Homo sapiens: one gene and its partners. The protein of the gene in region 1 interacts with the protein of each later gene in a pairwise test. Each region holds a gene or a part of one and is shown on either strand. Other genes may lie near its edges.

Evidence for each region.
Region 2: the proteins of ZNF774 (region 1) and BEGAIN interact in binary tests that used the Homo sapiens proteins (3 or more experiments, as listed by UniProt).
Region 3: the proteins of ZNF774 (region 1) and GTPBP3 interact in binary tests that used the Homo sapiens proteins (3 or more experiments, as listed by UniProt).
Region 4: the proteins of ZNF774 (region 1) and USP49 interact in binary tests that used the Homo sapiens proteins (3 or more experiments, as listed by UniProt).

Annotation. Positions count from the first base shown.
Region 1 is NC_000015.10:90,355,282-90,362,321, reverse strand, and holds part of ZNF774 (zinc finger protein 774), read right to left. Parts: intron 3,472-7,040; coding exon 3,365-3,471; intron 2,280-3,364; coding exon 1,039-2,279; 3' UTR 1-1,038.
Region 2 is NC_000014.9:100,536,636-100,542,446, forward strand, and holds the end of BEGAIN (brain-enriched guanylate kinase-associated protein), read right to left. Parts: exon of another isoform or gene 3,945-5,811; coding exon 3,861-3,944; exon of another isoform or gene 3,495-3,860; intron 2,985-3,494; exon of another isoform or gene 2,681-2,984; coding exon 1,334-2,680; 3' UTR 512-1,333; downstream 1-511. UniProt on the Homo sapiens protein: May sustain the structure of the postsynaptic density (PSD).
Region 3 is NC_000019.10:17,340,513-17,343,231, reverse strand, and holds the end of GTPBP3 (5-taurinomethyluridine-[tRNA] synthase subunit GTPB3, mitochondrial), read right to left. Parts: intron 2,189-2,719; coding exon 1,910-2,188; intron 1,755-1,909; coding exon 1,529-1,754; 3' UTR 501-1,528; downstream 1-500. UniProt on the Homo sapiens protein: GTPase component of the GTPBP3-MTO1 complex that catalyzes the 5-taurinomethyluridine (taum(5)U) modification at the 34th wobble position (U34) of mitochondrial tRNAs (mt-tRNAs), which plays a role in mt-tRNA decoding and mitochondrial translation.
Region 4 is NC_000006.12:41,892,369-41,899,633, forward strand, and holds the start of USP49 (ubiquitin carboxyl-terminal hydrolase 49), read right to left. Parts: upstream 3,008-7,265; 5' UTR 2,956-3,007; intron 2,771-2,955; exon of another isoform or gene 2,762-2,770; intron 1-2,761. UniProt on the Homo sapiens protein: Deubiquitinase that plays a role in several cellular processes including transcriptional regulation, cell cycle progression or innate immunity.

The DNA of each region.
Region 1 (7,040 bases):
TGGTAGATACACTGCCATACACTGCCATTTAAAAGAGCTTCTGAAATTCTTTCAGCCTCCAAGTCACAAGACCGCAAACATCCTCTACGATAATTTGGCCTTGTCATGGCAGTGAGACCTCTGGTGACTAATGCCTGCACAGCACTGAACTGGCAGTGCATTTCCATTTTATTCAATTTGTGTATTCCAACCCCAAACCTTCTAGTTCCAATCTAATTTCTTTCACGTTCTGAGTTTGGGGCGGGGGGACTACACTAATAAATTTCTAATTGAGTAATAAGACTGATAAAAGCCACCAATCTTGTACTGAGTGTCTTTTAAGGGCCAGGTACTGCATTAAAGCCTTTATATAAGACCTCAACTATTAATCATTAATAATGATGGGACCATTTAGTTATTGAGCATCTATGTTGTGCCAGGCACTGTACTAGGTGGTGAACATGTGATCTCTAGGCCACATTTTTCTCACTTCTCATTTAGTAACTAGGCATCAACTTTTTAATTTTTTTGGAGACAGAGTCTCTCTCTGTTGCCCAGGCTGGAGTGCAGTGGCATGATCTCAACTCACTGCAACCTGCACCTTCTGAGTTCAAATGATTCTTCTGCCTCGGCCTCCCGAGTAGCTGGGACTACAGGCACGTGCCACCATGCCCAGCTAATTTTTGCATTTTTAGTAGAGATGAGGTTTCACCATGCTCACCAGGCTGGTCTCAACTCCTGACCTCAAGTGATCCACCCACCTTGGCCTCCCAAAAGTGCTGGGATTACAGGGGTGAGCCACCACGCCTGGCGGGCATCAACTATTAAACTCACATTTCCCTAAGAGTCAGTCACACACTGAAGGAATGCCTTTTGTATTCGGACCGTTATTTGGACCCTTTAAGTTTATCCTCTCTGTTATAACATAGACAAGAAAGAGGGAGAATAGATCAGGGCCCAAATTGAGCCACTGACGCCCAGGTTTTCTCTATTTGGGGTGCTTGAAGACAGTAGCAATGAAAATGTGCAAGGGAGCAGCTGAACACCAAAGACTACTTCCTAAATCAAATGGGTGTTTTGATGGCATAAAAGATGCGCTTTCTGACGGAAGCTCTTGTTACATTTACTACAGTGGAAAGGTTTTTCTCCTGTATGCGTTCTCTGGTGTGTGAGGAAATGGGAACGCTGATTGAAGGTCTTGCCACACTCAGGACATCGATAGGGCCTGTCTCCTAAGTGGATTCGCTGATGGGTAATAAAGTGGGAGCTCTGATTGAAGCTCTTCCCACACTCTCCACATTTGTAGGGTCTTTCTCCGGTGTGGATTCGTTGGTGCTTAATGAGGGCGGAGCTGTCGGCGAATCCTTTCCCACAGTTTTCGCACTTAAAAGGTCTCTCACCTGTGTGTGTTCTTTGGTGCGTGACCAAATGTGAGCTCTGACTGAAGCTTTTGTGGCAGTCAGGACAACTGAAAGGCCTCTCTCCTGAATGAGTGCTCATGTGAGCTACAAAATGAGAACTATCTCTGAAGCCCTTCCCGCACTCCGGGCATTTGAAGGGCCGTTCTCCCGTGTGGGTTCGTTGGTGCTTAATCAAATCCGAGCTCTGGCTAAAACTCTCCCCACAGTCATTACACCTGTAAGGCTTCACCCCTGTGTGGGTCCTCTGGTGAGTGATGAAATTTGAGCTTCGACTGAAGCTTTTGTGACATTCCAGGCACGCGTAGGGCTTCTCGCCTGTGTGGGTTCTTTGGTGCATTATGAGGTGTGGCTTCCGCCCAAAAGTCTTTCCACACTCTGGGCACTCATAGGGTCTCTCCCCTGTGTGGGTTCTCTGATGTTTGATGAGTGTTGAGCTGTCGCTGAATTTCTTCTCACACCCCTTGCATTGGTAGGGCTTCTCTCCTGTGTGTGTTCTGCGATGGGTGACAAGGTCTGAGCTCTGTTTGAAGCCTTTCCCACACTCAATGCACGTATAGGGCCTCTCGCCAGTGTGGGTTCTTAGGTGTCTTATGAGATAGGAACTCTGGTTAAAGCTTTTCCCGCATTCTGCACACATAGGCTTCTCTCCTACATATCCATCCAGGAGCTTGTTTAAATCCCTCTCCTGTGAAAAGGACTCCAGCTGGCCCTCTCCTGGAAGGGTTCCATGTTGCCCTTCTAATTCTAGGCCTTGCTCCCAGTTTCCTCCCCAACTAAGAGTATGAGAAAGATCTTTATTGGTCCTTTCTGAGGATGTTCCACATTGTTCTGCTGTTTCAGAATTGTCCTGATTGAGCTTTGCCACCTGATGCTCACAGTCTGAAAAATTAATGTAAGTAACAGAGAATAAAGTTATCAGTTATCAGGAAGGAATATCAGAAAGCAGTGACAAAGATTAAAATCCCTGTTTCTGCAGCAGACTGCACTTAATTCAACCGCTCTGTTTTCACTTTGTGAAAAGTTTATTGAGGTTCATTGAGCTGTCAGAACACGTGAATTCCTAAACTTTTTAAATTTTAAGATGGCCAGATGAATCTTGATATCCTTCAAGCGGAGACCACATATTGTCAATATTGTGCGGTTTCTTTAGAAGATATTATAGGTTTAGGCCAGGCGTGGTGGCTCACGCCTATAATCCCAGCACTTCGGGAGGCCGAGGCAGGCAGATCACTTGAGGTTGGGAGTTCGAGACCAACCTGGCCAACGTGGTGAAACTCCATCCCTACTAAAAATATGAAAATTAGCTGGGCGTGGTGGCGGGTGCCTATAGTCCCAGCTACTTGGGAGGCTGAGGCAGGACAATCACTTGAACCCGGGAGGCGGAGGTTGCAGTGAGCAGAGATTGTGTCACTGCACTCCAGGCTGGGAGACAGAGGGAGACTCCATCTCAAAAAAAAACATAGGTTAGACAAAAGTGAAATGCTTAATCAAAATGAAGACTTTATTTAGTCAACTACTGACCATTAAGTCAAATTTAAATGTCTGCTAGTGGCCGGGCGCGGTGGCTCACGCCTGTAATCCCAGCACTTTGGGAGGCCGAGGCGGGTGGATCATGAGGTCAGGAGATCGAGACCATCCTGGCTAACAAGGTGAAACCCCGTCTCTACTAAAAATACAAAAAATTAGCCGGGCGCGGTGGCGGGCGCCTGTAGTCCCAGCTACTCGGGAGGCTGAGGCAGGAGAATGGCGTGAACCCGGGAAGCGGAGCTTGCAGTGAGCCGAGATTGCGCCACTGCAGTCCGCAGTCCGGCCTGGGCGACAGAGCGAGACTCCGTCTCAAAAAAAAAAAAAAAAAAAAAATGTCTGCTAGTAAGAACAAAATTCTAAGGCAGCATTCCAAATTCTTCATCTAAACAAGGCTGAAATGCTAGATTTCCTTCCACTGGGGAGCACTCACATCTCACCTGTGTGGCTTTCCCTCGGGATCTTCCTCGCCTCAAAGTTTTGGAGTGGTAGGACCCATGGCTCTTCTTTCTGCTCCGGCTGGGAGATTACACTAGGCCTGGAAATTCTACACAGGAATGTAAACATAGGATGTGAGTCTGAGCCAATCACACAAGGCCTGAGCAAAATCCAAGCCCTACTCCCTGCCTAGGTATGGAAGAACACCTGGGGAGCTCTAACGTGTATTTGGTGTCATTAAAAAAGTGCAGCCATGGTACAGTGATAAAACACGGTGATTTCCCCAAAATGTTAAGAAAAAAAAGCCCTTTTCCTCCCATAAAGAAAAAAAACCAGACTCAGGTGACAGAAACTCTGAAGTAAATACAATAACCATTTCTGAAGGTACAAGGCTAAAGCTAAATATGGAGAGGATTTTATCAGAAACCAAGCCTCCATGACCTCACCCTTAGAAACAATGAAGGAAGTTAACTATAATGTTGGGCTTTAAAATTTTCCCAGAATGGCAGCAGTCAAAAAAGCCATGAGAAAAAGACAAACAGTTGTTAAGTAGCCTGTAAATATACGAAAAATGTTTAACCTCACTATAATCAAAGAAATTCCATTATAACAATGATACACTGAGGCAATATAGTGTAGAGGTAATGAGTGCAAACTCAAGAGTCACACTGCCTGGGTCTGAGTCATCATCCTGCCTCTTACAAGCTGTGTGGCCTTAAGAAAGTTACTTAAACTCTGTGTCTCAATGTCTTCATCAATAAAATAGGGATAAGAGGCCAGGCTCAGTGGCTCACACCTATAATCCCAGAACTTTGGGAGGCCGAGGCAGGCGGATTACGAGGTCAGGAGTTTGAGACCAGCCTGGCCAACATAGTGAAACCCCGTCTCTACTAAAAATTAGCCGGGCATGGTGGCACAGGCCTGTAGTCCCAGTTACTCGGGAGGCTGAGGCAGGAGAATCGCTTGAACCCAGGAGGCAGAGGTTATGGTGAATCGAGGTCACACCACTGCACTCCAGCCTGGACGACAGAGAGAGACTCCATCTCAAAAAAAAAAAAAAAAATTGGGATAAGAATAAGATCCATTGGCCAGGTGCAGTAGCTCACACCTGTAATCCCAGCACTTTGGGAGACCAAGGCAGTTGGATCACTTGTGAGGCCAGGAGTTTAAGAGCAGCCTGTCCAACATGGAGAAATCCTGTCTCTACTAAAAATACAAAAATTAGCCACGTGTGGTGGTGCACACCTGTAATCCCAGCTACTTGGGAGGCTGAGGCATGGGAATTGCTTGAGCCTGGGAGGCGGACGTTGCAGTGAGCTGAGATTGCACCACTGCATTCCAGCCTGGGCAACACATTGAGACTCCATCTCCAAAAAAAACTTCAATAAATGTTAACTATTATTGCTATTTTTCCCAGACTCTTTTTTTGTGTTTTGTGTGTGTGTTTGTTTGTTTTTGAGACAGGCTCTTGCTCTGTCACCCAGGCTGGAGAGCACTGGTACAATCACAGTTAACTGCATCCTCGAGCTCCTGGCTCAAGCGATTCTCTCACCTCAGCCTCCCAAGTAGCTGGGACCAGAGGCACAAGCCCCTACACCTGGTTAATGTAACTTTTTGTAGAGACAGGGTCTCATTATGTTGCCCAGGCTGGTCTGGAACTCCAGAGCTCAAGTGGTCCTCCTGCCTCAGCCTCCCAAAATGCTGGGATTATAGACATGAGCTGCCACACCCAGGCCCAGACTCTTTAAATTATAATACCCACTGTGAAAGGTAGAATATAAAGAAATGCGCACTTTCATATAATGTTTGTGGGAATAAATCAATTGATTCAATCTTCTTGGAAGGCATTTTGCAAAGTATTAAATACCTTAGAAATGTATCTGTTCTTTGACCCACCAATTCTAATTCTGAGAATTCTAAGAAAATGATAAAATTATACTTCAATAAAAAATACTTTTTAAAAAACGAGCTAAAAGATGTTTATCACAACCTGGTGAAAGTTTAGAAATGACCTAAATGTCCCACAACAAAGGAATAATTATATAGCTCACTGCAGCCTCGAACTCCTGTGCTGAAGGGATCCTCCTGCCTCAGCCTCCCAAGTAGCTCAGGCAATTGCTATTTTTATAGGTTAAAAAAAGGTCAGATATATGGTTCAATCTAATGTTTGACTTCATCAACAAAATAATATTGTATTCCATAAAACAAAATACTAGGTGGTTATTTTAAGTGATGTAAAGAAAGATATACTCACAATACAACATGGAAGAAAGAATGTACAGCTGAATATACAGCATAATCCCAATATTATTCTTTTGTGCTTCTTTTAAAATTGTATATATGCTTAGAAAAATGCTGGTAGGATAGTAACTCTTCATTGGTGGGATTAGGGATGATGTTTGTTTTCATTTTGCTTGACTTTTTATTGAATGAGTATACATTACTTGTATAATAGATGAAGTAGGCCAGGCGCAGTGGCTCACACCTCTAATCTCAGCACTTTGGGAGGCCAAGGCCAGCGGATCACTTGAGGTCAGGAGTTCAAGACCAGCCTGGCCAACATGGTGAAACCTCGACTCCACTAAAAATACAAAAATTAGAGCTGGGCCCACTCCTATAATCCCAGCACTTTGGGAGGCCGAAGTGAGCGGATCACTTGAGGTCAGTAGTTTGAGACCAGCCTGACCACATGGAGATAACCCATCTCTACTAAAAATACAAAAAATTATCCAGGAATCGCTTGAACCTAGGAGGCAGAGGTTGCAGTGAGCCGAGATCATGCCATGGCACTCCAGCCTGGGCGACACAGCGAGACTCTGCCACAAAAAAAAAAAAAGAAAGAAAGAAGTAAAGCAGGAGGAAGGGTAGCCATGATATTTGAGAAAGAGCATTGGAGGTGTTTTTGGTTTTTTTTATTTATTTTTTTTTTTTTGAGATGGAGTCTTGCTCTGTCGCCCAGGATGGAGTGCAGTGGCATGATCTTGGCTCACTGCAAGCTCCGCCTCCCAGTTCACGCTGTTCTCCTGCCTCAGCCTCCCGAGTAGCTGGGACTACAGGTGCCCACCACCATGCCTGGCTAATTTTTTGTATTTTTAGTAAGACGGGGTTTCACCATGTTAGCCAGGATGGTCTCGATCTCCTGACCTTGTGATCTCCCTGCCTTGGCCTCCCAAAGTGCTGGGATTACAGGCATGAGCCACCGCGCCCAGCCTTGTTTTTTTTTTTTTTTTTTTTTTTGAGACAGAGTCTTGCTCTATTGCCCAGGCTGGAGTGCAATGGCGTGGTCTCAGCTCACTGCAACCTCCACCTCCCAGGTTCAAGCAATTCTCCTGCCTCAACCTCCAAAGTAGCTGGGATTACAGGCGCCCGCTATCACACCCAGCTAATTTTTTTATTTTTAGTAGAGACAGGGTTTCATCATGTTGGCCAGGCTGGTCTCGAACTCCTGACCTTATGATCCGCCCACCTCAGCCTACCAAAGTGCTGGGATTACAGGCGTGAGCCACTGCCCCCAGCCTGTTTTTAAGTGACAGAAAAAATTACCTCCTTTTCCACAAAGACCTCAGAAGTCTCAGAAGTTAAGTGGCAGAGGTGAGAGTCCAACCCAGGCTGGAAAAGGGGGATAGTAATACATAAGTCAAAAAGTTATGATGAGATATTAAAAGGACAATAAATAGC
Region 2 (5,811 bases), on another chromosome or scaffold:
ACACCTCAGGGAAACTGCAGAAAGCCAAAGTCAAAGAGAAAATCTTAAAGAGCCGGGGAAAAGAAAGCAATTTTTTTTTTCTAACCAATGGAGCGGCTCCGGGACTGACAGCCAGTTCCCAATACCAACAGGAAGACAGAGCAGAGCGGCAGCATCCCGTGTGCCCGGGAAAAGGCCACCTGCCGACATTCCATCCGTGGCCCCAGTACATCTCAAGGAGCAGAAGCCAAGTCTGAGACACGAGGATTAGGGGCCAGGAAATCGGTGGGGCAGCGCGCAGGAGAATGGGATGAAAGAGCTGTTGTCTCCAGTGGGTTGGGAGAAGCAGGAGAATCCACACCCTAGATAGGAACTTGGATGGCGGGGTGGGGACGGGGTGTTATGGGGATGGGGTGTGAAGTGGGGTTAAGGGGCCCAACTCGGCTGCAGAGAGCAAGGCTGGGGAGGGACACCAGGGACCCCAGGTTCCCGAGACCAAAAGGCAGGAGGAGGAGAAACAGCCCAACCCAGATTCTTTCCACCGGTGTCTTTTATTAATGAATGCAAAATACAGTACTAACTGGCAGGGCATGCATCAGAGACAACAAGAATGCAAGCTACAGAAACCAGGAATGGAGGGCCTCCTCATGTCTGAGGTAGAGTAAGACGGTGTCAGGGGGCGGACCCGGGGGCGGAGATGAGCACCGGCCGCACTGGGGCATCATCCCGGCCCACCCGGGACGATGGGCCGTGGGAGGGCTCAGGGCGGTGTGGTGGCCACACTGCGAAGAATGGATTTTTAAAACACTTCATAGCCCCGAATTTGTTTCAGCTCCCTCTTCGTGGACACAACTTCAGGGCTCCCTTGTCACTGGCTTGCGGGGGTGGTCTCCCCACTTGCAGAGTCTGGTCTCCACAGGACACCGTCCTTCCCTTCCCTTCCAAGGGGCAGGCCCCACGCACCCTCGCCCAAAAAATAAAGGAGCTTTGTGTTGAAAACGCCAAGGCAGCCGTCCAGGGAGCTGGAGGCCAAGTGCGTTAAGAAAGACCCTTTTTCTCTATAAAAATAGTTTCGCTTTATAAAAGGGGGGATGCTCCTCTCACATGGGGGAAGGACGCGTGAAAAACGCTCTAAGTGGAGTTCCACGGGCCGGGGCCGGGTGGACACCGTGGTGTGGGGGACCCTCCCCTCAGGCCTACAGGGCTGGGGAGGAGAGGAGGTGCGGGGAGGAACAGACTCCTCGTTGTTGGCCGGGGCAGGGGAACAGCGGGGGCTGGGGAGAGGTGAGGCCGGCCCTTCTGGGGCACGTGGGCTGGCGGGGAGCGAACCACGGCCAGGCCTGCACGCAGGCGCTCAGTTGAGCAAGGTTCCGTAGAGCTGGGCCTTGGTGAGGCTGTCCTTGCGGCTCAGCCCCGAGCCACCAGTCCGCGGAAAGGCCTGCTGGGGGCTGAGGCGGGCGGCAGGATGCATTTCCGGGGAGGCCTCCATGGAGCTCGGCTCCAAGGAGTCCCTGGAACCCTGCTCGGGCTCAGGGCTGCTGGCGGTCCCACACAGCTGCACCCCGAGCCTGTCCCCGTCCCCCCCCTCGCTGGGTGCATAGCCGGGCAGTGGGTCAGCCGAGCGGCCGGGACTGAGGCTCAGGTCGCCGCCCGCCCGCAGGAAGCAGGGCTCTGCCAGGTGGCCCTGGGAGAGGTCGTCCCCCTCGGAGAAGCTGTCGGCCTTGTAGCTGGCGTAGAGCGGGCTGGCGCGGCCGTCGGCCTTCTTGCCCGGGCTGCCCCCGGCCCCGCCGTAGTAGCGTTCAGAGAAGCTGCAGGGTGAGGCGCGGCCGGCAGCGCTCACGGGGTAGGAGTAGGCGCCGATGTCCTCCACGCTCAGGGGACGCCACTGGCCCCTCATGTCCTCCCCGGGGAGCCGGGCGGTCCCCGGCTTGGCCCGCAGGCTCCACAGGTTTGGGGGCATCAGGGCCTGCTGGGGACCCGGAGAGGCCGGGAAGCGGAAGGTCTCGGCCGGGTACGGTGACATGGTCCGCCCGAAGCCTGGGGCCACTTCGGCCTCCAGCGGGGCCGCCACCGCGGCCGTGGCCTTGGCAAAGCGAGGGCTGCCCTCGTAGGTGGTGGCGGGTGGCTTGCGGTCGAAGAGCTCGTCGCGGCTGTTCAGGTAGATGGCCTGCTGCGACGCGGTCAGCGTGCTGGCCTGCGCGTGCTCCTTCTCCTCCGACGTGGCGCTGAAGCTGGAGTAGGAGCTGGACGTGGGCAGTGAGCCTGCGTAGCTGGGGAAGGCCTCATGCTGGAAGCCCGCCGGGAAGGCCGCCGCCTCGGCCTCCTCCTCCTCCTCGGCCGCGCTGTCAGTGGAGTTCTGGGCCCGCAGGAAGCCCACGTCGGTCACGGGCGCGTCCACGCTAGGCCGCCGGTCTCGCCGCCGCTCCTCCGGGCAGTAGAGGGCTGTGTCACTGCAGTAGATGTCTCCCTTGTAGGGGGGCCGCGGGCCTGGTTTCTCCACCCCGTCGCAGAAGGCCAGGTCGCGGGCGGAGGCATCGGACAGGCGGGAGGACAGGCTGGCGGGGTCCGGCTTCTCCAGCACCTTGGCAATGACGCAGGTGGGGACGCTGTCGGCGTAGGCCGGGTGGCAGAGCGGGGATGGCAGGCTGCAGCCGTGCTTCTCCATGTGCAGGCTCACGCGCTCCTGGAAATCCGAGGGCAGCTGGAACGGGTGCGAGGAGGGGGACGGCGGGTACAGGGTCACTGTTAGCATGGCAGCCCAGCCCTGGCCCTGAAGCTGAGGACTGATGTTAGCCATGACCGACAGGCAGACAGACGAACGGGGGCCTCCCGGCTTCTCAAATCACACCAGGGGGAGCCTGGATCCAGGACGCTGTACTGAACAAGCTCCCAGGGGTGTGGGTGCTGTGACTGCCTGGGGATCCTGGGTCACCTCTCCCCACCCCACTCTGATTGGGCCCAGGAGAGCCCAGAAGCTGCAGTCGCCTGGAGAAGCCGGAACCCAGGTCTGATTCAGGCCCCACTCAAGGCTCCACCCCCCGCCACCCCCACCCCACCCATTTTGTGCCCAGCGAGGGGTTGACTTGCTCTCCCAGGCCCGTGGGTTCTGTGGGTTCTACTGGGGGCATGACCCACTCCCCAGCCCCCCAGTCATGCTGCTGGAGCGCTCCTGAAGAAGACAGACTCAGATGCAACAAAGATTGAGGGCCAGGGCTGAGAGCGCCTGGTGCCATGTGGGGGTGTCCCGCTACTGTTTGATCTATTTTGTGAGTGTCTCAGGCATGGCCCAGGACCAGGGGAAAGGAACGCACAGGCCTGGCTGGGAGATTGCATGTGAGGGGAGGGTCGGGGGACGGGGTGCGCAGGGTGCGGCGACCATAGGCGGGCAGGGGTGGGCCTCTGGCCCATCTGCCCTTGGCATCAGACAGGCCTGGTTCTGGGTCCTGGCTCTGCTACCTGCCTGCCACGTGGCCTCAGCCACGCCCTCTTTCCTGAATGTTTTCTTTCTGAAATAGGCACTGCCGGTCATCGTGCCCAGCCACAGGCTCCTGCGAAGCTCCACAAAGGTCACTCTGCCGTGTCAGCGCTCAGTGGAAGCAAGGACCTGGAGCAGCCCCCCAAAGGAAACCGAGGGCAACCAGCAGCCGGGGTGGGCCAAAGGGACTCTGGTGAGGGCCAGGGGCTGCCCGGCTGCGTGAGGTGGGGTGCCTTTGGCGGCCCCTCCAATGTCATGACCCCACAGGAGCGAGGGGGACAGAGGAGGCTCAGGCTCAGCTGGCATCTTCCTCCTCAAAGATGGGAAATGGCTTTGGGGTAGCACTGGCACAAAAGGAGCCCGGTGGTCCCGGGGCGGGGTGGGCCTGGCTGCGGGGCCACGTTACCTCAGACACCTTGTGGACCCTGCCGTAGGTCTGGCTGCACTGCAGCAGCTGGGCCGCTAGATTGCAGTCCTTCCTATAGAGCTCCTAAAAGACAAGAGAAGGCGTTTGGCGCCATTCACCCCAGCCAAGGCCCCGCCGCCCTGACCAGCGCCAAGTGGCCAGCGGGGGCAGTGGTGTGCACAGGGCCTGCTGTGCGCTCAGCAGGACAAGGACCCACTGCTGGCTCCGGCCCTCTCTGGCCTCCACACTCTTGCCTGCAAAATGAGAGCCTCTTTCTGACCTGGGGCTGCCGGAGCATGGAGGGCCCTGCCGCTGCCCTAGCTGGTGCCCTTGAGCACTGCCAAGATGGGAACCTCCCACAAGGTGGGGGGCAGTGGTAGAAGAAGGAGCCCCAATGGCCCTGAGCTCCCCCAGGCTCGTAGAGCAGGCCTGGTCTCCCTGTCCCTGTCCCTCAGGCTCTCGGCGTCCTTCCAAAGATGACGGGGTGGGAGTGCCAGGCAGGAATGGGAGGCAGGATGAACCCCCAGCACCTTCCACCCCGCACTTCAGACTTGCTGCTCACAACCCTCTTCCCAGAGTGTGGTTTGGAAACAGTGTGGCTGCAGGGCTGGGCAGGGACTGGGCAGGTGTGTGACCTCAGGCCCAGGCGGGCGCTGGCTCAGCCTCCTGAGCTGAAAACAGATGCAAACAGTAGGACTCAAGGGGTGTGGCTTCGCCACTGAAAATCTCTGTTGCATGTGCCTGTGTTTGGGGCTTGCATTCCCGCCCCTCCGGGGTCCCCACTGCGAGGGCTCTGACAGCTAGCCCTGGGGTGGCCCGGAGGCCCAGTGACCCACCTGAGCTGCCCCATGGCTGCTCCTGGCAAGGGCTGGCCACAGTCCCAACCCAGCCAGCACCAGGCATCCTGCTGTCCAGGCAAGGCTGTCTCTGACACAGGCACCTTTCTGTCCCCCCACCACGGCCCTGGAGCCTCCCTCACTGAAGGCTGGTGCCCCCAACTTGGCCTACACGGTGGAGGGCGTCGGAGTCGCCAAACCCCTCTCAGTGCCTCCCTGGGCCTCCTAGGAACAGAACAGCACGGCTGCCTGAGAGCTGAGAACTGACCCCTTGTATGACCCCAGTCGACCGGCTGCCCCTGGCACCAGAGGGCTGCAGGCACTGCCCAGCCAGCCCAGGTCTGCCACTGAGCCCCACCAGCCACAGCCAGGAGTGGCTGCCACTGGGAAGCCGGTGCCATGCCCATAGCCCCTGGGGCACCTGGCTGAGTACCCAAGCCCCTGGGCTGTCCATGTCTGAGGTGGCCAGCTCTGGGACAGCTGGGAGCCTTTCCTGAGCAGCCGCAGCTGCTGGCTCGGGGAGGAAATGCTCACGGGACACTCTGGCAGAGCGAACAGGTGGAGGCAAGCACTCTGGCCACCCAGGGCCCGGGGCTGCTGGAGTCGGAGTCCCGAGGTTGAGTTCTGGCTCCGTCTGCGAGACACCACCTGGGTCACCTGGGAAACCACTCAAGCTGGCCATGCCTTAGTTTCCTCATGTGCACCAACCCTGCAGAGAGGGCCCCAGGACTAGTGTCCACTTAGGTAAGGGGCCTGGCCTTGTCACGTTAAGAAGCACCTCCTGTCCCGAGCCCATGTCCTCCTGTCCTCCTGTTAGAGCCACACTCCTTAGAAGGGTGGCCTGTGTCTGGAACCACCGCTCCACTCCACCACCGACCTCCAGTTCCCCAAATCCCAATGCCTCTCCTTGGCCCTCTGACCTGGTCTCTCAGCAGCTGGCAAGCCAGCCGGCCAGGGCATTGACTGCAGCCCCCTTCTCAAGTGGTTGTTGGGCCACCATACTCGCCTGGTGTCCCCCAGCCTACTGGCCACTCCCTCCCAGGCATCCTTGCTGGTCCCTACTCCGTCCTGGGGCCTCCCTGCTTCTCATCTGCATGCTGCCTGGGCAGTCTCCG
Region 3 (2,719 bases), on another chromosome or scaffold:
ACCCATCTCTACTAAAAATACAAAAGTTAGCCAGGTGTGGTAGGGTACACCTATGATCCCAGCTGCTCGGGAGGCTGAGGCACGAGAATGGCTTGAGCTCAGGAGGCAGAGGCTGCAGTGAGCTGAGATCACACCACTGCACTTCAGTCTGGGCAACAGAGCAAGACTCTGTCACACACACACACACACACACACACACACACACACACACACACACACTTTGGGAGGCCACAGGTGGGCAGATCACAAGGTCAGGAGATCAAGACCAGCCTGGCTAACACAGTGAAACCCCATCAAAAAAAAAAAAAAAAAAAAAGAAGACTAAAGACTAAAAAAGGAATGAGGCCAGGCACCGTGGCTCACACCTGTAATCCCAGCACTTTGGGAGGCCAAGACAGCAGGATGGCTTGAGTCCAAGAGCTCAAGACCAGCCTGGGCAACATAGTGAGACCCCCCATCTCCATAATTCTGTTTTTTTTTTAAAAAGAAATGACAATTTGTAGAGCAATGAACACAATACCATTTATATATGATACACAAGACAAACATATTTGAAAGGTACATCCACAAGTATGCAAACATTCAAAGTTCTGGAAAGACACACATTAAGCCATGACAACCACAGAAGGGCTAAGGAAAATTTCCATGTTGAAACACTTCTGGGGCCAGGTGTGATAGCTCACGCCTGTGATCCCAGCACTTTGGGAGGCCAAGGTAGGCAGATTACCTGAGGTCAAGGAGTTCAAGACCAGCCTGGTCAACATGGTGAAACCTTGTCTCTACTAAAAATACAAAAATTAGCCTGGCGTGGTGGTGTGCGCCTGTAGTCCCAGCTACTCAAGAGGCTGAGGCAGGAGAATCACTTGAACCCGGGAGGTGGAGGTTGCAGTAAGCCGAGGTCGCACCACTGAACTCCAGCCTGGGTGACAGAGCGAGACTCTGTCTCAAAAAAAGAAAAAAATTAGCCGGGCATGCTGGCACATGCCTGTAATCCCAGCTACTCAGGAGGCTGAGGCAGGAGAAGCGCTTGAGCCCCGGAGATGGAGGTTGCAGTGAGCCAAGGTCGCACCACTGCACTCCAGCCTGGGCAATAGACAGAGGAGGGAAGGGTAGGGGAAGGGGAAGGGGAAGGGGAAGGGGAAAGGGAAAGGGAAAAGGAAAGGGAAGGGAAGGGAAGGGAAGAAAATAAACACTTCTAGATCACCTGAGTTTTTTTTACATTCCTTTGGTATTTGCAAAATAAATAAAAAACTACGAAACAAATATACTGAGATCCTCCTATCTCCATCCCAACCCGGATGCCCCAGCATCAAGGGTCGAACGGGACCTCCATTCAGCCCCATTCCAGGGCCTGAATCTCCAGGGAGTCCCTGCAGGGATCTCACTACCTCTCAGCTGTGTTGCTTCACTATTTGAGAATCAAGTTCTTTCCCAGGCGAATGAGAATCCCAATTGGCCTAAACTGTTTCCAGATCCCCCGAGGCTCCTGGGTCTCCACGCAGCTTGGGTGCGACTTCCCTGGATCCCGTCACTTGCCCACACAGAAGTCCTGGAAGATGATGTCCAGGATCTCCTCGGTACCCCCTCCACCTGTGAGCCGGGTCAGGTGACCCCGGGCCACCCGCAGCGCCTCTGCCGCCAGGGCCAGGTCTTTTGACTGCTTGTAGTGGCCGAGGGCATCCAGGCAACCCTGGAGGTGGTGCTGGTGCCTTGCTCGGGTCAGCAGCGGGGGATCTGTGGACGGGTCCCCACACCTGGAAGAGACAAGAGACATGGTCTCTCCCGACCTTTTACAACCATCCCTTGAAGGGGAAATGGTTGTACCCATTTTGTAGGTTCAGAAATTGAAGTTGAGGGACCCACACTTAAACTGTGGGTCAGGGGAGGCTGGGAGTGGGAGGGGGCTCACACTGCAGCTAGCTCCTTCCTCAGCGCCTCCAGGAGGCCGTCCAGCCCCTCTCCCGTCAGACAGGACAGCAGCAGGTGCGGGGGCAGGTCAGGACCGGGACCTGGGCCCTCCGGGGACAGCAGGTCCGACTTGTTCAGCACCAGGAGGAGGCGCTGGCTGCTGTCACTGGGGCTCTGGGCTCCCACAGAGGCTACGACGGTGGCCAGGAAGTTGCAACTGGAGGGAGAGGCCAGGTCAGAAGCATCCAGCATGGCCAGAATGAGGTCAGCCTGCTCTAGCCTGCGGGAGCAAGGTCAACTGAGCGGGGATCCCAGGTTGAGCAATTGAAGGCACTGGGTGGAGGGACAGTTAGAGGGGCCAGGCAGAGCACTGGGGGAGCTGCGAAGCGTGAGGTCGGGAGGGAGGAGTAGAGTACCAGGGGACCGGCAGAATGTTGGGGGCCCAAGCCGAGCACAGGGGGTGGGGCAGAGCAAGAGGGGCGGGGCACAGTGCAGGGGGAAGGGCAGAGCAAGAGGAGCGGTCACGGTGCGGGAGCGGGGCAGAGCAGGAGGGGCTGGGCACAGTGCAGTGAGTAGGGCAGGGCAGGAGGGGCGGGGCACAGCACAGGAGGGCGGGGCAGAGCAAGAGGGGCAGAGCACTGTGCAGGGGGAAGAGCAGAGCAAGAGGGACAGGGCACAGCACAGGGGCTGGGACAGAGCAAAAGGGGCCGGGTACAGCACTGGAGTGGGGCGACCATGAGTGGCGGGGCAGAGCAAGAAGGACCAGACACACCACAGGGTAAGGGGTAGAGAGCACCAGGGGTGGGGCAGA
Region 4 (7,265 bases), on another chromosome or scaffold:
ATGCACACACATCTCACTGAAACAAGTGCCTCATATCAAAGTTATTCTTCATCTTGAAAGTCAACATTATCAAACTAATCCTTTTAAAATGTAGTGGCAAAAATAGTAATTTTTACCAAGATCCTCTGTTAAATTGCTAAATACATCTAGTAACCTTGAACACTTGCTTAATACAATCCAGGAAACAAACCATAAACTAAATACTATGCCACTAACACAGTAGCTGAATGCAGAAAGAGTTTTCTAAATTATACATTAACCATTGTTGCTCAAATCCACAAATCAAAATCTAATCTTTGTTAACTACTACAAAAGTCATAAACCTAATCTTTGTTATTTATACAAACACCAGCAAAAGTGTCAATCCAAAATTTACCCAACTTTGAAAAAAAAAGTATCTTTGTGCATCTGAGTGTACACAATGAAATAACCCCAAAGAAGATTCTCAACAATTGTTTGAATTTTTCCCTAAGTAAATCATATGCTATCCTTTGGCACCATCAAATGCAAAACAAATATTCATTCATATTCTTAGCTAAATGTAAAAGCTTCTGAAAAAAATCATTAAAACAAAATTCTAAGTAAGAATAACCAAATTTTGCCCCAAATTTCTTATCTTCCTTTTCATTTCTAAAGGTGTCTTAAAAATCAAAAGCTTCTAGAAAATTAGTATTAATCTGGCCTTCTTTATTCATAACCATAAAACACGAAAGGCAGTGGAGCTGTCCAAAGACCAAGCTTGCTGCAGTATTATCTTACAGAGATGTTTTTCCATCAAAATTACTCATAAATTTATTTGCCCTAAAAAATAAGTCTGCTACTCTAAAATCCTCCACTACTCTACAATTCTCCCTTTCTTTATGCCATTTTGTTAAATGGGTGAGTTACCAACTACAGCATGAAACGTCCCGCACAAAGCTAAAGGCAGCTCAGGAACTCAAAGCCCTCAGCTCTGATTTAATCTCTCCCCCAGTAAACTTCCTTGGTTGGTTATCTGCCTTTCTCTGAAATGATTTCTTAACATTCTCCAGCAACTGAAAACAATAAGCAGAAATCTGGTTGATTAATCAAAAGAAACAGATTCTCATCTTTCTCTATCCCAACAACAGTGCGTTCTCCATTGAAAATGAAAATGCTGTCCATAAAACACAGCCCAGCACTTGTCAGGTGCAACACTCCTACAACACTAAAACTATCACATCACACGAGTACACCCTAAATAAGCACACCCTTTCCCCGAATTATCACAACACTAGTGAAATGCAGAGGTTTTCAACACCCAGAGTTTATACTTTATCATCCATACAAGAAAAAAATCAAATCAAAATGAGTCTCATTTCTTCAAAGTGGACAGGAAAGTCAAATCAAAAGCAATGAAGGGTGGAAGCAGATTCAAGATTTCTTGAGAGAAAGAGGTTTCTGGAATTTCCTACTTTTAGGGACAAAAGGATTCACAGTTTCAACACACAGTTCTCTCCTCAACAAAGAATTCCTTTCCTGCACCCCCCACCTCTGCCCTTACTTTTTAGTCTTTACCCCTGTCTCTAGGTCCCCTTTCACTCACCATGGTTCCTCGTCTTCTGCACCAAAGGCTCTCTTACACTTGATCTTTCACTACAGCATTTCTGCCCTGACCCTTGCAGACCTTCTGGAGCAACTCCCCATAACACGCACATTCGATTCCCACCCCCCTGCAGTCTACCCCAGTTCTACATCCATCAGGACTCCCCCAGCTTCTCTTAGCCCCCTCTCTTCCCTTACTCCCCATCTCATCCTTTAAATTCTGGGGCCCATCTCTTCCTGCTCCTCTCACCATTTGCTTTTAGCCCTGTCTCTTTACCTCACTGTTTTCACCTTGGATCTTGCTGAACCTCTTCAATTAACGTAATTACCCAGTTATCCTTGTCCCAGATGGCCATCACTTCTTACACCCTAACTCTAGTCTCCTTTCAGCTCTTCTGGTCCCAGAATCGTCCTACAGACACCCATCTCTTATCTGTTTCCTTTCGCCCTTCCACCACACTCTTATTCCTGACTCCACCTGGTTCCAGTCCAGGTCTCATTTGCCCTCCCTCACTTTACAGAATTTACATCCATCGCCCACCCACTAACCCATTCCTTTCTCAGAACCTCGCCAGCAGTTCCCACCACACCGTTGGTCCCAGTCCTTCAGCTCATCTCGCTCCGCACTAGTTCACACCCTCGTCACGTCTGGCTCTTAATCACTCTCTCTTTCCTACTCCCAACTATTACCCCAGCTCTGCCCCTCCTTGTCTTCCACTTCCAACACTTACCCCGGTACCCCTCACCCCAACACCACCCGCTACGAAGATTTCCCCTTCAAACCCCTGCTCTTACACCTAACCCCAGGATCCCTTTCCCCAGCCCTAACCTCATTCCCTGCCCGGCTTCCTTAACGCCCACCCTGGCTTTTGCCTCCTTCCTATCTCCTTGGCTGGCTTTTTCTCACTCCTCCTCTCCCTGGCTTCTAACCCTTTCTCCCCTTAATCCTCCTCATCTCATTCTCAACCCGGTTCCCCTCATCGCCTCCAAGCCTTCCTTTCCCTCTCCCTTCAACGCTTTTGCCCCAACCCAGCCGTCGCCCACCCCGCCAAAATAAGGCGCCCGCGCGCCCCGACTCCCGGCTCTCGCCTCCCGCCGCCCCCGCCCCGGGCGCCCCCAGCCCGCCGGCGCCGCGGTCCCGCCCCCTGCCGCCGCTCCTCCCGCCCGCGAGGCGCGCGCTGCCTTTGTCGCCCCTCACCCGGTGTGTGAGGATTTTGCTTCTTTAAAGGGGAGGGCTAGTGAGCCGGAGACTCCTATCCCCGCCTCCGAGTCTTAGAATGGGCTCCCTGGCCGTCGCGGCCTCCCCGGCCCCCGTTCCCCCTACCCCCTGGAGCTACCCACTTTGCTGCCTCCCCACCTCCTCCGTCCCCTCCCCCGGCCCCCTCTATTTACCGCCATCATCAGCACGCGCGAGCTGTCACCAGGGCGCGAGACAACCGAACACGGCCCCGCCCCCTGCCCGTCTATTGGCCCGCCCGCTGGAGCCCCGCCCCTCAGGCCCTGCATTGCGCCAACGGCGCAGCGCTGGGCCGCGACCCCGGCACCGGCACCCGTTCCGAGGGTTCGCGCCGCAGGCGCAAAGTTTAGGGTCAGCCACAAACGCGCGGCCGCTTTGAGCCTGGCGTAAGGGGCGGCGGCGTAGGGGGACGTTGTGAATAGCTGGTCGAAGTTTGGTTGAAGCACAGGAGGGTAAATAAGAAGGTTTCCAGACAAAGAGACTCTTAAAGGTACAGACTCTTATGTCTGTCCCTCCTCCTTAAAGGGCCAGAGACGCTCCCGAGCCCATCTCCGCCCCCTTCTTCCCGGGGAACTGTAAAGGTATTTTACATGAGTTTCCCATACTCTTTTCGGTTCACCTTTAACACCTCTCCCCACTGCGAAGGACAAAGGCTTTCTCACTATCCCGTCCGTATGTTTTGTTTTATTCTGTTAAAAGACGTTATTTCTGTGTTGTTCCTAAAGCAGCAGCCCTCAAACCGTGGGGTTTCCGGAGGCAGCGTTTGCAAAAGTTACTATTGGCTCCCAGGCGGGTGAGCACGTGTCTGGCTTTTGCCACAGATGACCCAAGAGAGATTCAGCTGTTTTATGGAAATCCCCCACAAGTTAGAGGATCGCTGCCGGAACTGAAGAAGTTCAGCAGATTGTAAGGCTTGGGAAATAAACCAGACTGACTTGGTAGTGGTCCATTGGGAAACAGAACAGCACCTAAGCTACAAAAGGCTTAGGTTAAGCAGTCTCCTAGGTGCACTGTCTTGAAACTACTTGCGGGGTGGTAGTGGGGGGAGGGGATGGGAGTCTCCCAAAATAAGATCAACAATTTCAACACCCAACACATAGCTAAGGCAGATAAAGACTTACATTTAAATATAAGGACAAGTAAAAGAAACAGACATTAGCTATAGTAGTGGCTCAAGTTACACACCTGTAAACAGGAGAACTAGGTAAGCACAAAAAAAAAAAAAAGAACACCACACACAATAGGAAGGGGGAAACTACAATGCCTGGACCAAGCGCTGTGTAGGCAATTTATTAACAACTTGCACTTTTAAAAGAGGTTTGATAGAAGGAGAGGAAGTGGAGTGTTTCAATTTGGTTTGGTCGGGATTTATCATGAGGTTCAAGGCCTCAGAGTTAGATTCAGAATTTAGCTCTCCCTTTGTCGTCCATCACAGTTAACATAATTCTTTTTAAGGAATTCTTAACATTATAACTCTAATTATATGTCTTATTCCCTTACTCAACAATCCCCAAGAAAATTCTTGGAGAAGAAAGATTGTTACTTATTCAATGTTAGTTCCATAACAAGGTGCTTTTGCTGAGTGAAGAATTTGGGAGCCACTTAAAACTTCCAATGGAAGGGATGCTCCCAGAATAGCAATACAGGAGGAAAAGTTTCTCAGTGATGTGAGCATGTATTAGATCAGTGTTCTCAAAAATGTGGCCTGGAGGCCGGGCACGGTGGCTCACGCCTGTAATCCCAGCACTTTGGGAGGCCAAGGCAGGTGGATCATGAGGTCAGGAGATCAAGACCAGCCTGGCCAACATGGTGAAACTCCGTCTCTACTAAAAATACAAAAATTATCCGGACGTGGTGGCGTGTGCCTGTAATCCCAGCTACTCAGGAGGCTGAGGCAGGAGAATTGCTTGAACCAGGGAGTTGGAGGTTGCAGTGAGCTGAGATCGTGCCACAGCACTCCAGCCTGGCAACGGAGTGAGACTCCATCTCAAAAAAAAAAAAAAAAAAAAAAAAGTGTCGCCTGGAAAGGCCTAGGGATCTCTGAGACCCTTTGGGCTGGGGGGATAGTGGGGTGCCTGAGATCAAAACGATTTTCCTAATAATACTGAGACATATCTGCATTGTCACTGTGATGATATTTGCACAATGATACAAAAGTAGCAATGGGTAAAACTGCTGCCTTAGCACAAATCAAGGCAACTGCACCAAGTTGTGCTAGAGGTCAAGGTATTCTTCACTGCTACAGTAAAAAAACACCTGTTTCAGGCCGGATGGGTGCAGTGGCTCACACCTGTAATCCCAACACTTTGGGAGGCCAAGGCAGGTGGATCACTTGAGGTCAGGAATTCGAGACCAGCCTGGCCAACATGGTGAAACCCCTCTCTCTACTAAAAATACAGAAATTAGCTGGGCGTGGTGGCACGCACCTGTAATCCCAGCTACTCGGGAAGCTGAGGCAGGAGAATCACTTGAACCTGGGAGGCAGAGGTTTCAGTGAGCCGAGATCGCACCACTGCACTCCAGCCTAGGCAACAGAGTGCGACACTGTCTCAAAAAAAAAAAAAAAAAAAACCACCTGTTTCATTTAAGAGGTCTTTGATGAAGACAATAAAAATTGTTTTATTTAAGTACACGTTTATGTGATTAAATGCATGTATGTATGCATCAAGCACTTTTAAGTACAACATTTGTCTTGAGGAAAAGCACTCTTGCAATTTGAGTTTGGAGCTGAATTAATAGCTTTCTTCATGGAACACCGTTTTTATTTGAAAGAACAGCTAACAGACTAGTTGTTCACTGGATATTTGGCAGACATGTTCTTAAAAATAAAGTAGAGCCTGATAGCATTGTCGGTTATGATAAAACTCAAGCCTTTATTTTTATTTTTGGAGACGGAGTCTCACTCTGTTACCCAGGCTGGAGTGGAGTGGCGTGATCTCAGCTCACTGCAACCTCTGCCTCCCAGGTTCAAGCAATTCTCCTGCCTCAGCCTCCTGAGTAGCTGGCACCACAGGCACACGCCACTAACGCCCAGCTAATTTTTTGTATTTTAGTAGAGACAGGGTTTCGCCATGTTGCCCAGGCTGGTCTTGAACTCCTGAGCTCAGGCAGTCTGCCCGCCTCAGCTTCCCAAAGTGCTAGGATTACAGGCGTGAGCCACCGCACCCGGCCTGATAAAACTCAAGCATTTAAGTCAAACAGAATTTCTAACAACTGACTTGTATCTCCCAATGTAAGTTTGATAGCTTCCCATGACTTTTTCTAATAAGACTGGTAGTGGGCCAGGCACGGTGGCTCATGCCTGTAATCCCAACACTTTGGGAGGTCAAGGTGGGCAAATCATTTCAGGCCAGGAGTTCGAGACCAGTCTGGCCAACATGGCGAAACCCCATCTCTACTAAAAATAAAAAAATTAGCTGGGCATGGTGGCGCATGCCTGTAATACCAGCTACTCAGGAGGCTGAGACACAAGAATTGCTTGAACCAGGGAGGCAGAGGTTGCAGTGAGCCGAGATCATGGCACTGCCCTCCAGCCTGGGCAACAGAGCAAGACTCTGTCTCACAAAACTAAAATAAGTCCGGGCACGGTGGCTCATGCCTGTAATCCTGGCACTTTGGGAGGCCGAGGTGAGCGGATTGCCTGAGCTCAGGAGTTCAAGACCAGCCTGCGCAACACAGTGAAACCCCATCTCTACTCAAAATACAAAAAAAATTAGCTGGGTATGGCGGCATGTGCCTTAGTCCCAGCTACCCGGGAGGCTGAGGCAGGAGAATTGCTTGAACCTGGGAGGCGGAGCTTGCAGTGAGCCGAGATGGTGCCACTGCACTCCAGCCTGGGCGACAGAACGAGACTCCATCTCAAAAAATAAAATAAAATAAAATAAAAATAAAAATAAATAAATATGATTTTTTGATACTGTATAATGTGTCAACATTTAGGAGATGTGCAGTGTTTTCCAAATGACCAATGCATGACACTACAAAATCACACATTAGTAAAAGATCCATTCAAAGTGCAAAATAAGGCCAGGTGCAGTGGCTCACGCCTGTAATCCTGGCACTTTGAAAGGCTGAGGCAGGTGGATCACTTGAGCCCAGGAGTTCGAGACTAGCCTGGGCAATATAGCGAGACCCCCATCCCTAAAAAGAAAAAAAAAAAGTGCAAAATAAACCAATAAATATTAATGGAATATAAAAAGTTCACTAATATACTTTGAGGTTCCACATTGCAACTAACCTTTAGCAGAGTTTTGATAGCATCAAAGAATATCCACAATTATCTGAAAAAGTTATGAATATATTTCTCCCTTTTTCCAAATACACATCTGTGGGAGGCTGAATTTTCTTCATATTCTTCAACCAAAATAACATTGAAACAGACTGAATGCAAAAGCAGATATGAGTATTTCACAGTCTTCTATTATGCCAGACATTCAAAAGATTTATGAAAATTAAAAACAATGCT